Homo sapiens: one gene and its partner. The protein of the gene in region 2 purifies or fractionates together with the protein of the main gene of each other region. This does not show direct contact. Each region holds a gene or a part of one and is shown on either strand. Other genes may lie near its edges.

The links.
Region 1: the proteins of TMC6 (region 2) and PXK purify together in Homo sapiens (affinity purification with mass spectrometry; 2 studies listed by BioGRID and IntAct, with this or other methods). This does not show direct contact.

The regions. Positions count from the first base shown.
Region 1 is NC_000003.12:58,328,142-58,335,895, forward strand, and holds the start of PXK (PX domain-containing protein kinase-like protein), read left to right. Parts: upstream 1-4,750; 5' UTR 4,751-4,847; coding exon 4,848-4,949; intron 4,950-5,164; exon of another isoform or gene 5,165-5,408; coding exon of another isoform or gene 5,409-5,450; intron 5,451-7,754. UniProt on the Homo sapiens protein: Binds to and modulates brain Na,K-ATPase subunits ATP1B1 and ATP1B3 and may thereby participate in the regulation of electrical excitability and synaptic transmission. May not display kinase activity.
Region 2 is NC_000017.11:78,125,744-78,133,336, reverse strand, and holds the start of TMC6 (transmembrane channel-like protein 6), read left to right. Parts: upstream 1-4,581; 5' UTR 4,582-4,725; exon of another isoform or gene 4,726-6,430; 5' UTR 6,431-6,504; coding exon 6,505-6,560; intron 6,561-6,688; coding exon 6,689-6,813; intron 6,814-6,970; coding exon 6,971-7,060; intron 7,061-7,452; coding exon 7,453-7,593. Other genes in the region: TMC8 (transmembrane channel-like protein 8), read right to left, coding at 467-549, 829-978, 1,307-1,455, 1,600-1,748. UniProt on the Homo sapiens protein: Acts as a regulatory protein involved in the regulation of numerous cellular processes. Together with its homolog TMC8/EVER2, forms a complex with CIB1 in lymphocytes and keratynocytes where TMC6 and TMC8 stabilize CIB1 and reciprocally.

The DNA of each region.
Region 1 (7,754 bases), on a different chromosome or scaffold from region 2:
CGCTCTGTCGCTCAGGCTGGAGTGCAGTGGCACGATCTTGGCTCACTGCAACCTCCACCTCCCGGGTTCAAGCGATTCTCCTGCCTCAGCCTCCCGAGTAGCTGGGATTACAGGGGTGCATCACCACACCCGGCCAATTTTTGTACTTTTAGTGGAGATGGGGTTTTGCCATGTTGGCCAGGCTGGTCTTGAACTCCTGACCTTAAGTGATCCACCCATCTCAGCCTCCCAAAGTGCTGGCATTACAGGCATGAGCCACCGTGCCTGGCCTTTATTTTTTGTAGAGATGGGGTCTTGCTATGTTGCCCAGGCTGGTCTTGAACTCCTGGCCTCGAGCCGTCCACCTGCCTCAGCTTCCCAAAGTGCTGGGATTACAGGGGTGAGCCACTGAGCCCGGACTCATCGTTTTTCTCGTTCATGTAGGTAAGCAGCTTGATAGACGATGACATCTGTCCGGTTTGTTTTAACTCCCCTGTGCCTGACATAGTGTCTGGTATCTAGTATTCTGCAAGGAATTTGCTAAAAGATTGAGTGAAATGGGCCAGGTGCAGTGGCTCATGCCTGTAATCCCAGCACTTTGGGATGCCAAGATGGGCAAATCATGAGATCAGGAGTTCAAGACCAGCCTGAAACATGGTGAAACCTCGTCTCTACTAAAAATACAAAAATTAGCCAGGCATGGTGGCAGGTGCCTGTAATCCCAGCTACTCGGGAGACTGAGGCAGGAGAATTGCCTGAACCCGGGAGGTGGAGGTTGCAGTGAGCCGAGATTGTGCCACTGCACTCCAGCCTGAGCGACAGAGCAAGACTCCATTTTGGAAAAAAAAAAGATTGAGTGAAATGTTCTTTCTCCATATCCTGCTATCCAAATCTCACCCATCATTAAAGGCCCCTCTCAAACCCCAGTTCTTCCATGAACTGCCCCATAACCCAGTCTAGTGCCATGACTCTTTTCTTTCTTATCTTCTCATGGTACCCAGAGCCTCAATTTCAGGACTCAGTATAGGCTGTCTTGGAGTCACTGTTTCTGTGACGATCTTTCCTATCCTCCTTAAAAATTATTGGATGAAAAGGAGTCTGCTTCTTTTCCATTTTGTCCTCTACAGGACCTGCAATATTGAAAGTCTTCAAGTACCACTTACTGACTTTGAAAAAAAATCACTACTGTGATCATTTGTCAAAAACATACGCATGAAGATTGTCATCTGCCAATCACATAATCTTAAATGAAAAAAATCTAATTTGTAAAAGTATGCAAAATGCATTTTTCAGAGCATGTGAAATTTCTTGTAAGGTATGAACTATGGACAAGTTGGTTTCTCTTACAAAAGCATTTGGACTGTGTGGACAGATTACAGAGAAAATGGAGCTAAACCCCAGAGAAGCCTTCTTCCAGTTACTGTCATGACTTTATCTTATGGAAGCAGTTGTCAGAGCACTGGACTCCAGTTGTCTAACATTTTTCCCCCAATCATACAAGTTAAATACAGAAAAGCATACAGAAGAAATCATCATGATCCTGCTTCTTAGAGGCCCACCGTTCATATTTATTTATTTATTTTTGAGACGGAGTCTCGCTCTGTCACTGAGGCTGGAGTGCAGTGATACGATATCGGCTCACTGCAACCTCCACCTCTTGGGTTTAAATGATTCTCCTGCTTCAACTTCCCGAGTAGCTGGGATTACAGGTGTGTGCCACCATGTTCTGGCTAATTTTTCTCTAAAAGTAGAGACAGGTTTTCACCATGTTGTCCAGGCTGGTCTCAGACTTCTGACCTCAAGTGATGTGCCCGCCTCGGCCTCTCAAAGTGCTGGGATTACAGGTGTGAGCCTCTGTACTCAGCCCATATTTTGATATATTTTCTTCTGGTGTTTGTCCTGTAGATATGTTGGGATTATACGGATGCTAAATTGCTTTTTTCATTTACTATTATATCAAGAGCATTTCTCAAGATCATAAAATATTTTTTAATCATGTGACTTTTTATTTATTTATTTGTTTGTTTGTTTGTTGAGACAGGGTTTTGCTCTGTTGCCCAGGCTGGAATGCGGTGATGCAATCTTGGCTCACTGCAGCCTCCACCTTCCGGGTTCAAGTGATCCTCCCACCTCAGCCTCCTGAGTGCCTGGGACTATAGGCATGCACCACTTACCCTGGCCTGATTTTTAACATTGCAAAAAATTCATGATTGTACCAAGATTTGTCCAAAACCCAACTGTTAGTCATTTATCCTTGCATGCTATTTTTTTTTTTTTACTGATCTCTGATTATTTTCTTAGGATACCCTCCTAGACGCAGAATTACTTGGTCATAGGATAAGAACATTTTCAAAGCCCTTAATACATATTTGTTTTAGCTCCTAGTACTAGGTCTATTACATAGTAGGTACTTAGCAAATAATTGTTGAATGAATGTACGAATGCCCTCCAGAAAGGTGGCGCCAATTTATACTCCCACCTGCAGTAAGAGAAAAGAGCCTTGTCTTGGTCAGTCCACATCACAATAGGAGTAATGATTATAGCTGGATTTTGGTTTCTGTGACTCTGGCAGAGAAATAATCTATTTGCCTTAAAACAAAGAAATGAAAGTAAAAAGTTGAATCCTCCCTAAATGACATATGGTTTTGCTTTAATAGACTGCTGCTTTTAAACACACTGGCACAAAAGTGGAATGGAGGGAGAGTTCTGATTATTTTAGGGCTGAATCATGAAGGTCCAGGATTCCTTCTTCACATCTCGCTCTATTAGATCTTGGCCCCTGGGACCAATCTCATGGCTACTTGACTCAACGGGGCTGCCCACCAATCCCAATAAGCTTGAGATCTGGAGAAGGGACCCTTTATGTATGATGTGGGCCTTTCCTGTGATGTCAAATTTTGGTGGTGGTGGTGGGATTACCAAGGAACTTTGTTCCCTTATCTGAAGTGTAGAAATTTAGTGGAGGCAAATTTAAGAGTTAGGAACCTTCCATTCTGTCAACTGTAGGGGAAGGAGGAAACTAATATTGACTTTGTTTTGTTTTTTTTTTGTTTTTCCGGAGACGGTCTTGCTCTGTTACCCAGGCTGGAGTGAAGTGGCATGATCATGGCTCACTGCGGCTTCAACCTCCTGTGCTCAAAAAACTCTCCCACCTCAGCCTCCTGAGTAGTTGGGACCACAGGTGTGAGCCATCATGCCCAGGTATTTTTAAAATTTTTTTGTAGAGACGGGGTCTCACCATATTGCCCAGGCTAAACTCCTGGACTCAAGCCATCCACTCTCCTCAGCCTCCCAAAGTGCTGGAATTACAAAGGTGAGCCATCATGCCTGACCACGGTTTGAGGTGTTTTTGTTTGTCTGTTTTTTTGTTTGTTTTTTGAGACAGAGTCTCACTCTGTCACCCAGGCTGGAGTGTAGTGGTATGATCTTGGCTCACTGCAACCTCCCCCTCCCGGGTTCAAGCAATTCTCCTGCCTCAGCCTCCAGAGTAGCTGGGTCTACAGGCACGTGCCACCATGCCCAGCTAATTTTTATATTTTTAGTAGAGGGGGTTTTGCCATGTTGGCCAGGCTGGTCTCAAATTCCTGACCTCAGGTGATCCACCCACCTTGGCTTCCCAAAGTGCTGGGATTACAAGCGTGAGCGATCATGCCTGACCACCGTTTGAGTTTTTACTATGTGCCAAGCCCCTTCCCAGTCTACTGCATTCCTTGTATTAACCTTTTCATACAAATAATATTATCTCCACTTTGCAAATTGGGGAGTTGGGACTCAGAGAGGTTGGGTAACTTATTGAAGATCACACAGCTGGTAAATGCCAGAGCCATGGAGATGATGGTCCTCCAATTCTAAATTTAACTCTTCACTATCCTGGAATGCTGCCCTAGGAGAGGGCAGTGTGGGTGAAATTTCTAGGTGTATATGGAGATGGGGGGGATGAGGTGGTGCCAGGATTATGGCTTTGGGTTCAGGCAGACTGTGGGCAGATTTAGGGCTGAGAAGTTGATCCCAAGGTTCTCTGGCTTGGCTCTTGGTTTGAAGTTCTTCTAGTCCATATGGTGGGATCAAAAACTCCCAAGTCTAAGGGATGTGGTTGAGCCCGCAGTGGGGGCCAAGAGTAGAGGCTAGGGGTCTCTGGACCATTTTATAGGGTCTCCAGTTCTTAGAGCTTGGGTCTGAGGGTTCTGGGGCCCAAGACCTCCAATTATGGGGTCCAGCTCTTAGGTGTTCAGGCCTGAGGAGCCACGTTCAAGAGTCCCTGTGAAGTTTCAATAGGAAGGGCTTGTTTCAGAAAGTCTCTGGGTTTGCAGGGCTCAGACTGGGGGTCCCATCCTAAAGGCCCTTTTTCTGAGTTTTAGGGTCCTTGGGCCTGGGGGATGAGAGAGATCCAGTTCTGAGGGTTTCAAGAGGTACGGTCCCCGAAAAGCCCAGTTCTGAGAGGCCTGGTTTGGAAATCTCGCCCTGAAGATTCCTGGATCCCAGGGCTCAGGACCAGGCGTCTCTGGATCTGAGGATCCTGGTAGTGATGGCTTAGGGTGGTGTTCCCTGGTCCGAAGCCCGGAGCTAAGGGCACCGGGTCTGCGGTGCGGCTGCGAGGAGCAGGGAAGCGCAGGCCCATGGCAGCCGCGAGGCGGAGGAGCGGGCCAGCGGGCGGCAGTGCTGGCGGCCCCCACACGTTCTGCGCTGGGTCGGCGCTAGGACTCCGGGGCGGCGGCCGTGGGAAGGGCGGCGCTAGGACCCCGCGGGCCCGGCGGCGCGTGGGGCGGCGCGTGTTGACAGCGGCGGCGGTGGAACCGGGCGGGCGGCGGGAGTCGGCGCCTCGGGTTCCTACCTCGCGTCCCTAGGCGGCGGCGGCCGGGCGTCCCGGGATGGCCTTCATGGAGAAGCCGCCAGCCGGCAAGGTGCTGCTGGACGACACGGTGCCGCTGACAGCAGCCATCGAGGCGAGCCAGAGCCTGCAGTCCCACACGGTGCGCGGCCCAGCGGGCGGGCGGGCGGCGTGGGGCGGCCCCGGGCCGCGAGGGGGCTGCGGGCTGCCTGGCGCGGGCCGGGCAGGGTCGTCGGACGGAGACCGGGCCACAGGGTGGGCGGCCCTGGCCGAGAAGGCTGTGGCGCGCCGCTGGGTCTGGGTCAGGGCCCCTGGGGCCCAGGCGAACGCTGAGGCCCGGAGGGGCCAAGGATGGGGACCGCAGCTCCCGGCGCCGCGGGGTGGAAGGAGCTCGGCGGCGACCAGGAAAGCGACTCCGAGTTGGGGGGCGGGGGCGGGGGCTGCGGGATTCCCGGGCTCACCTTGGACTAGGGGAGCAGGAACGAGACCGCTCAGGACCATCCACTTCTGCCCGCCGCCAGCCTTTTCCTTTTTGAGGCCGTGTAATTTCCTCCTTGCAGCTGAGGGTCTGGGTGATGGGGATGAGGGTGTGCCGGGCCAAATGAAGTGTGACTCCAGAGCCTACTTGTTGGGACAGCAGAGTGTAAGTGGCTGGGGTCTGCAGCCCCGTTTCCAGGTCAGCCGCTTGGCCCTGGTCCCGGGAAGTGGTGGGGGCGGCAGTCGGGGCGCTGTTAAGCAGGTGTATGAATGTGCTTCTCTAACTTGCTCTTTAGTGGGCAGTGGTAGCATTCATTTGAGTTTAAAATCCACTCGAGTAGCATAAAGGAGTAATAGGTCCTCATAGTAAACATTGGCAGGGTTCATTTCTGCTACATATACGGTCTTTTATGGGGCTTTAAAACCGTGGTTGTTTTCATTTGCTTGTACCTTTTTTTTTTTTTGAAAGGCCCACTATGCATTATAATTTCCAAGCAATAAATCTAGGAACCAGCAAGAAACCTGGAGCTATCAGCTAGTGGGACTTTTTTGGAAAAGTAATGAGTGAGGAGAGAGATTCCTTCAATTGTGATGTTTTGTCAGTCCACCGAATCAGATTCAGACTCAGAGGCTTGTTTGTTTACCATTGCAGTGTGTTTGGGGGGTCATCATCTGGAGGCTAAAGCTCACAATAGCCTTCTGTTTCTCTTTTCGTTCAAGCTCTTCTGATGACTTCAAAGAGACCTTTTATTCTGTTGTATTAAAGTGAGACTTTTTTGAACCTCAGTTTCCTCTTCTGACAGCCGTGCTTTGTAGGGCTTGAATTGTTCAAAGCATTCACTTCCAGTTAAGAAAATTATTATCTTTTTAAAAAGGGCTATTTATTTCACGCTGTGTGTCTTTAATCCTATTCTGTAGACATGTGAGAAGGCACATACAGGACAGAATTTGTTAAACTTGCTATCATTTGTGCCTAAAGGGAGTATGGCATAAGGGTTGAAATTTAGGATAGGGAGTCAAGAGTAATTCAGCTATTAAATTTGATTTTTGACTTGACTATTGGCAAGTAAGTCTTATAACCTTTCAGGGAATAGTGTCGAGTCCTTTAGGTTTATTTTGTATTGAAAATAAAGAGATAGATGTTTCTAAATACTCACAAATTACTTTCCCTAGGAAGCATTCATGATTTCTACAGCCCCAGCCCATGTGCCTACCCACACCTTAATCTTGATTAGTTTGTCCTGTAATTACTTCTTTACTTTTTGTCTCCACCAGGCTACAAGAGGAGGGGCACTTCTTCCTCACTTTTGAGTCTCATTCCCTGGTTTTTGATAGGATTTCAAATGTGTTTATCAAATGACTAAATAATCCAACTTCAACCTTACTATGCCTCTTTTTCTGTTTATGTAAAATGGTAATTGTAAACATTGAAAAAATAACTTAGAGATCAGTGCTTTAGCTAGGTGGCGAAAGATGTAATAGGATTCTGTTTTTATTGTAAGGGTGTGTGTGTGTGTGTGTGTGTGTGTGTGTCTGTGTGTGTGTGTGTGTGTGTGTGTGTAGAGACAGCGTCTCACCATGTTGTCCAGGCTGGTGTGTGTGTGTGTGTGTGTGTGTGTGTGTGTGTGTGTGTGGAGACAGCGTCTCACCATGTTGTCCAGGCTGGTCTGGAACGCCTGGGCTCAGGCCGTTCTCCTGCCTCAGCCCCACAAAGTGCTGGTATACAGATGTGAGCCACCACACCTGGCCCTGCAGATCTTTTCTTTAAAAAATAAAATAATTTAGGGTAGAAAATGGCAGTTCTTGTAGGGATGACTGACCACAAAAGACAGTGACTCACAGGAGACCCATAGAGGCAGATGTGGTAGAGTAAAAAACTGTAGCATTGTCTTGCGTAATTTTTTGACTGTTCTGTGTTCTTGTCATTTTAGCTGTAAAGTTTGACTGAGAAATGTTGCATCAGCCCTGAAGTTTATTGAGAAAATCTTACGCTGATGCAAACTTTTTGGACTGTTAGTGTCTTATGAGTAAGTCTTTTTTAAAACAGGAACTGTTGGAAATTATTTTGGAAAGAAGTAGTTGTTAAGAGGGGTATGTAGAAGAGAAAGGCACTGTTTTTTCTTGGGGAGATTGAAGTTGGCTTTCCAGCTTGGTAGCTGAAGGGAGATGGTGTTCCAGAAGTCAGAGCTCTACTCTCGCTTTGAAATGCTGAATCTCTAGGAAGTTACTCCTTGGCTGTAGACAGAAACATACGGAGTTAGAGACAGACTTGGGGTTGGAAGAGGCAAGACCTTAATACAGGTCTGAGCTGATACTTGCTAGTCATGTGATATAGGCTGGGCAAGTCACTTAAACCTTTTTGAAGTTTAGTTTTGTCATCTGTAAATGGGAGTAATAAATGCCTGCCCTGCCTGCCTCCCAAGGTTGTTAGGAAGATCAAATGAAATCATCTTGATGAAGTATTTGTAAA
Region 2 (7,593 bases):
ATCTTGTTAGCCCCCGTGCAATCCCCCCATCAGGTAGGGAGTGTCCCGTCTTACAAGGGCCCACAGAGGTTCGGCAACGTGCCCACGGTCACAGGGCTTTGAGAAATAGAGCCACGACTGGAACCCAGGAACCCCATTGGTGACCACTCGATGGCTTCCCAGGATGAGGGTGGGGAAGTGCTTCTCCCAGAGGCCGGGGCACTTTTCCCCCTTTGTCCCTGGCACCGCCTACACCAGCTGGGCTCTGAGGACCACGGGCATGTGTCCATGAGTCTATGTTGGGCACAGTGGCCTCAGCCTCTCTCTAACCCCACCACCGGCCAGGCCAGTCTGTCTAGGTAAGACCATCCCCTGAGGAGCCGAAATGTCCCTGGAGGAGCAGAGGTCCTCTTAGACTTGTGTCCCCTGAAGCCAGTTCCCTGGGTCTCCCAGACTCTGGACCATAGCCGGGACAGACCTCACTCACCCTGCCAGTCAAAACATGCCAAAGTTGATTGTGGAACCTCAAAACGCCAGGCGGGGACTGGCGGCTACCAGGGCACTGGAGGGCTGTTGAGGAGGAAGGGGGTCAATAGAGAGGGATCCCCAAGGCATAGGTGAGGCTCTGCGGCTACTGCTCTATAACCCCCAACCCTGGGGAGGCCTGGGCAGGGGGCTGAGGATGTGCCAAAGGCGTGCCCCACACAAGGCGAGGTCAGGGAGAGAGAGCCCCGGGGCCTGCACGGCAGGACCACGCCCAGCGTTGTCGCCACGCTCTGGGCCCTGGGCCAGCCCCCCCATGGCGCAGGTGGGCACCGGAGCACTTCCCCTGGTGGGCCTCACACTCACTCAAGTTCAGGGTGGGGCCTGGGTCAGGGGGGCGGAGCCAGACCAGGGGCAGCAGCACGAAGCTTGCGGTGAGCAGCAGGCTCAGCAGGTTGAGTAGCAGCAGGAAGCGGAGGAAGGTGAAGTAGGACCGAATTCCTGTGCCGAAGAGGCCTGCAGTGGGAGAGCAGGGTGGGTCAGGGAGGCCGGGGCCGGGGCTGGGGCCGCGCTGAGAGTCCAAGGGCGGGCCCACCGGACGGCGTGGGGTGCCCGCCAGGCTCCCACCCGCCCGAGTCCGGAGGTACCGCTGACAGTCACCTGGGGGTGCTGCGTGGGCCCGAGGTTTGCGGTGCCTGCGGGCGGAAGGGGTGGGAGGGGGGAGGGGCCGATTGGTCGGGGGACCCGGGTGAAGGCAGGTGGGATGATGCCACTCTCCTTTTTCCGATCTGGGCAGTGGGGCTCCAGAGAGGGCAAGGGGAGGTGCGGGTCGCGCGGGTCCTACCCCCGATCTCGTAGAGCGCCCCCTCCCAGAGCCCAAGGCCCCGGGCCAGCCGCTGCGCTGCCTCCCGCAGGCGCCTTTCCACCGTCTGCCGCCGGCGCTGCCACCGCTGCCAGCGCAAGGTCTGCACCCCCGCGGGCTCCCGCAGCTGCCTGGACGGGGGTGGTGACAGGGGCGCCCCTGAGTCACCCGCCCTGCCCACCCGGGCCAAGCAGACGGGGTGCTCCCACACCATCCGACGGGGCAGCCTCGCAGCACCCCCCCCACGCACCGTCTGGCGCCCGCGTGGCACCCACCAGATGAGGCGCTTGTCCATCATGGCATAGGGCAGCCCGCGCACGGGCGTCCCAGAGCCGCGCAGCCGCTCCATCTCTGCCTCCCACAGCTCCTCCGGCTCCGGCACCCCAGGGGCCCGCTCCGATGACACCGACCGCGGCAGCAGCATCTCGGCGGGCACGGGTAGAGGCTGGGGCGCCGGGCTGCCGGTGGGGGGGATATGAGTCCCCGGTTGGATGAGCCTTAAGGCCTTGGCTATGGCCTCTGTGCACGCTGGGCTGGGGGCGGGCCCTTCCGTCCCCTCTGCGCCGGCGTCGGGGCCTGGGCTCCTGCAGCCCTAGGGTTCACTTGCCCGGGTCTGCCGCTCTGCCACCTCCGGGGCTCAGAAATGAGAGAGAATCCTGCTGCGGTCGAATTCGGGCCCAGCCCCGCTCCAACTCTCAGAGGGACACACAGCCACGGCCTCAGTCTCCCCATCTGTCAAATGGGGTGAAAGATCCAAAGGGCACAGAAAGTCTGGACCGGCACAGGCAAAGAAAGCCAAGACCTGCTGCACCCCGCATCCACCTGTGCCTGGGCCCACCGTCACCCCAAGGAGAGACAATTCCCTCTCTTCTCCACGTGGCAGTTTGCCCTTCCGGAAGAGCCTGTGTCCCAAACCCCACAGTTCCTGGGACTCGGCATCTGCCACATCTGACTCTGGATGTCGGGGGACCCCCTTCTGTCTTCCTTCTTGTGGTCCAGCCTCCAGTCCCAGGTACCCCGCGAGCCCCTGATGAGGACCTGTGGCTACAGCCCCAGCCGTGGGGACAGGAGCAGGGACCCACTGCTACCCTTGCAGGGCTCTAGCTGGCCCCCACAGCCCCTCACCCTCTGCATTCTCCCTCCACTGGACATCCAGCTCACCTGGGGACCTAGGGACCAAGTCCCTGGAGGAGTCCCCTTCTCAGACGACTCCTGCCAAGCCAGGCAGGGTGGTGAGGGAGCCCAGAGGAGGGGTCATATGACAGGAAACCCAGCTTCCCTCTCCACTACCTCCCTCCTCCCCTCTCACCCCATGGTTTCCTCTGCTTTAAACTGAGGCCAAGCAGGCACTTCCTGTGGGCCCCTGAGATGCAGAGGTGAAGGTGACAGGCGTAGGCCACTTGGCCTCCCAGGGAGCTCTGTGCATGCTGGGCTGCGGGTGGCCCACCCTTCCCCTCTGCACAGGAGTCAGGGCCTGGTCTCCTGCAGCCCTAGGGTCCACTGGTCCGGGTCTGCCGCCTGGCTGCCTCCAGGGATGTCCAGCCTGCAGCTGAGGCCCTCTCTGTTCAACTCCTTCCAGCCTGGATAGGCAGGACTTGACCTCGAGGCCTGAGCTGGGAGCCTGACATGGGTGGGGATGGGAACGGTGGGGGCACAGGGGCCAAACTCTTTATCTGCCGGCCTCACCCTGGAGGGTGTGATAATGACAGGATGGTGGGCTCCCCAGAACCTGGCTGCTGGGTTTCCAGATACTCTTGGTGTTACTGCTGTACTTCCAGCCCCTGTCATTGGCGTTATGGTTGTGCCAAGACCCAGGCCTAGCACCTGGCCGGTAGTAAGTGCTCAGGAATTGGCTCCATTCATGCTCTCCCAGGCTAGATGTTTAAGACATATCTTTGCCAATTCTCTGTCCTTGGGCCCCTGGGAAGCCCGCAGCCCTTCCTCTCTGCTCCCTCTCTACCTGCTATAGGGCCCAGTCATCTCAGGTCTGAATGTTCATAGCTTTTCTGCCTCTCTGCCCACCTCCTTCCTGGTTTCCAGAGTCCTTTCTGTGTGTCAGGCGCAAGCTATGTGCTGGTGCTGGGCACACAGTGGGCTGGGGTAGGAGGGGGCACAGAACCACAGATGTACATGTCAATAGGAAGTGGTAGGTGCTCCACCAGGGTTCAATCTGGGGAGGCTCCCCAGAGGAGGTGGCATTCATGCAAATTCAGTGTGGGTATGCAGGGAGGGGGAAGCAGTGGGAGGAGAGGCAGGGGCTGGGTCTCCATGCCAGGGTGCCACTTGCCAAGAACCAGCTTGGGGTAGCCATCTGAGGACCACACTGGCAGCTCCAAAAGGCCCCAGCCTTGACCCCTGCCTGGTCCTCGCTTTTGCTTGCCTGCTCTCCCCTGCAGCAGTGCCCTCTCCTGCCCTCCTGGGCCCCAGCTCACATTCACCCTGCCTGCTTCATGGCTTCTCCCCGCCAGGAATGACCCTCCCTTCCAAATGGGCTTGGGGTGGGGGGTACAATCTCAAAGGCAGTTTCCTCCATAGAGTTCCCAGGTGGACCACTAAGTCTCCTGCTTTGGCTGGGGGCACCCTAAAGGGTGATTAACTTCTCTCAGCCTCAGTTTCCTCATCTGTGAAATGGGAATATCAGTGCATACCTTCCTGGCTCATGGGGAATAACAGAAAACAGGGCAACGGGTACAGCACCTGGGGACAGTCACCTAAGTGTCAGCGTGTCCTCCTTTTCATCCCCTCCTCTCCACACAGCACACAGGAAGTGAGCCAGAACTCTTGCTAGATAAACAATGAACCCCGCCCAGGTGTCAGGAGTGGGAGATAACCAGGCTCCCCCCGCCGGGGTCGGGGAGAGTCAGCAGGAGGCTTGCGGGGGCGGCGGGGGGGGGGGCGCTGCCCAATCTGGAGTGAGATACTCTGTGTCCCTGGGGCTTTCGGCGGCATCTTACTTGGACGATCCCTAACCATGGGAAGCAGATGAGTCTGGAAATATTGCCCCTTTTTGGAACTTGGGGAAACTGAGCGTCAGAAAAATTGGGGACTTCAACCAGGGGCTGGAATGAATCCAGCCCAGCTCAGACCTCAGGAGGAGGGGTCGGAAGTTGGCAGGGGAGGAAGGCATAGTCGCCGCGGGGCGCCCGGAGGAGGGCGGGGGCGCCGCGGGCCGGGCCGGGTCACGTGATAGCCGAGGCCCGCCCCCCCCCCCCCCGCCCACGTGGGCCGGGAGGTGCGGCTACTCCCCCGGCCCCGGCAGACCTGCGACTGGCCCAGTCGCCCCTGGGGCCCTTTGCCACTCCCTTGGCAAGGAGAGCCGAGACCTCAGTTCCCGGCGGCTCTTGCGGGGCACAGGTGAGCCCTGGCTGCGCGCGCGGCCCCTCCTCCCCGGCGCCTCCCAGGTGAGCGGCCGCGATCCCGGTCCCGGGTCCCGCCAGCCCCAGCTGCTTCTCCTATGCGGGGACAGCGGCAATCCCCCCTGAATTCCTTTCGGCCTCTGGGGCCATTTGGCAGCCGAGTTCCCTCCCCGGGTGCTCCTGGAGCTCCCAGGGCTTGACCCTCCGGCTCGGACAGAGCTGGGAGCGGCAGGGGCGGGGAGGACAGTGCGGGGAGCAAAATCCGCAGCCCCCACCCAGGTCCCCCAGCCGAGCGCCAGGGCACGGGGAGGGGAGGGGAGGGGGTGTGGCCGGGATGGGAAGGGGCGGGGGACAGGGAGGCCGGCTGGACGGGTTCGGTGGCCCCAGAGTTGCAGCCGCTCTGGGCTCTGGGGCCAGGTTGCGGTTCTCCCTGGGTAGCGGCTGCTCCCGGGAAGCTCGCTGCCGGCTGGGGTGGGGGTTCCTGGAAACGGGCGCCACCCAGCCTCTCCCCACCTAGCTCAGGAATGGTGCGCCTGGAAACTCCGCTGGACTTGCCTGGGCCTCGGGGCGGAGTGCTGGGGCGCTGGGTGCCCGAGTCCCCGGGTTCCCTGAGCTTAGAAGGGCCTGTCTGGAGGAAGGGATTCCAGCTCTAGGGACTGGGTGGGGCGTCCTCAGCCCCTCTTTCGGCAGCTGTCCCGTGTTAGGCTGGGTGGGGCCGCCTCGGACCCAGCTCTGGGCTGGTTTTCCCACGTCTTTGCTCCTGCTGGAGGGAGGGGGTGGTGTGGGGCCTGGGCCCGAAGATGGCACCCAGGACACTGAGGGAGGGCGCCGTCCGGTCCTGTGACTGGCACCCCTGCAAGGAGCTGCTCTGTCGGGGCGCCCCCGGGCTTTGCCTGTCCGAGGAAAGCGCCCTTCAACCCGGCCGACTTTGAGCCCTGAGTTCCTGAGGGTGAGCGCAGGAGGAGTCCAGGGCAGAGGCCGGCAGGACTCGCTGGTGGCTGGGAGCTGAGTCCTGGCTCCACTCTCACAGATGAACGGGCCCCGAGCCCAGGGCCCCAGACAAGGCTGCTCTGGTTCCAGTTGTGCCGGGTGACGGCAGAGCCAGGACAAAGGAGGCCTGTTGAGGTCCTGGCCACCCCCAGCCGGCCGCCCTGGGATGATGGAATGCAGGGCAGTGGGTCTTCTGAGAACATGAGGACCTTGGCGCCCTGACGGCGGTGGCATGGAGTGACCTCTGTGTGTGGGGGAGGAGCCCCCTGTGCTGCTTCCGCCTGGGGCTGGTTGGGGGTGAGGGCTCCAGCAGCTAATTTCCTGCTAGAGGAAGTTCTTTGAGGTCACAGGGCAGACGCAGAGAAGGCCTACAGCCTACTCTGACCTTTCTCTCCAAAAAGGAGGTGTCTCTGTGCCAGAACCCTGGGCATGGAGATCCTGAAAGGGGCTGTGTCTACAGGCACCCTACCTCTTCCCCATTTCCCAGGGACTGGCGACATCGAGGAAACAGATGTGGAACTGCAGACCCCACACCCTTCCTTCCTCTCTCCCCTCCCCTGACACTGGAGGGGGCCCCCCATTCCATTCTGGCATGAGGCTTATTCGGTGCCTCACCATTTATGTACCTGGGGTGATAGGGGGGTGGGCGGGACTGTCTGGGCTGTGAGTGGCACCTCCTGTGGTTCCCCCAGGAATGGGTGGTGTGGACAGCTGCCAGGCGTTGAAGACCACCCCTGGCTCTGTGCCCCTGTCTCATCAGATGGGGGCTCCGGAGGTGGCGCCCAGGCTCTGAGCTACCCTAGGTCTGCAGACTAGCGGGCATTGGCCAGAGACATGGCCCAGCCACTGGCCTTCATCCTCGATGTCCCTGAGACCCCAGGGGACCAGGGGTAAGCGCTCTGGGGCTGGGGGCTGGAGGCTGGAATGTTCCACCCCCCACGGAGAGGTCACCTGAGCAGGGGCTGCTGGAAGGAGAGAGGTGGCTGGAGCCTGACCCCCCCGCCAACCCCCTCTGCAGCCAGGGCCCCAGCCCCTATGATGAAAGCGAAGTGCACGACTCCTTCCAGCAGCTCATCCAGGAGCAGAGCCAGTGCACGGCCCAGGAGGGGCTGGAGCTGCAGCAGAGAGAGCGGGAGGTGACAGGTGAGCTCAGGCCTGGATGCTGGGTGGTGTGGACCAAGACTTGGGTGCCCCAGCCCCTCAGGACGGGCCTCCCAGCTCTGCAGGCCTGGGATGGGGTGGGAGATACTGTGGCCAATGGCATCTCCAGGACCCCTGGTGAGTCTTTCTTGCTTTGTAGGAAGTAGCCAGCAGACACTCTGGCGGCCCGAGGGCACCCAGAGCACGGCCACACTCCGCATCCTGGCCAGCATGCCCAGCCGCACCATTGGTGAGTGGGACCCTCAGCCTCGGCCTCGGCCCCGGCCCCGAGTTGACCCCAGTCCCTGGGGCTGGGCTGGGCTTCCTGCCAGGCATCTCCCTGGGTAGTGGCTGCTCCCGTAGCTCAGAGCCAGGCCCAGGGCGGGCTCCTAGCCCATCCCATCTGCTGCCTGGGGGCCCAGCACAGCCCCATGTGGCCCTCGCTGGGCTCCAAAAATGACTCCAGAGTCATCACGGGGTAAAAATAGGCTTTCGGAATGCAGTGGTGCCTGAAGTCTTTGTTGAAAGGATTTTCCTGGGTCCTGGGAAGGGGTGAGGGACGCAGAGGCCTGTGGTGAGCCCATCCTGAGGGGAGGGAGGCCTGGCCCTGCCCGGCCCGGCCCTGCCCAGCTGCCTCCATAGGCCGCAGCCGAGGTGCCATCATCTCCCAGTACTACAACCGCACGGTGCAGCTTCGGTGCAGGAGCAGCCGGCCCCTGCTCGGGAACTTTGTCCGCTCCGCCTGGCCCAGCCTCCGCCTGTACGACCTGGAGCTGGACCCCA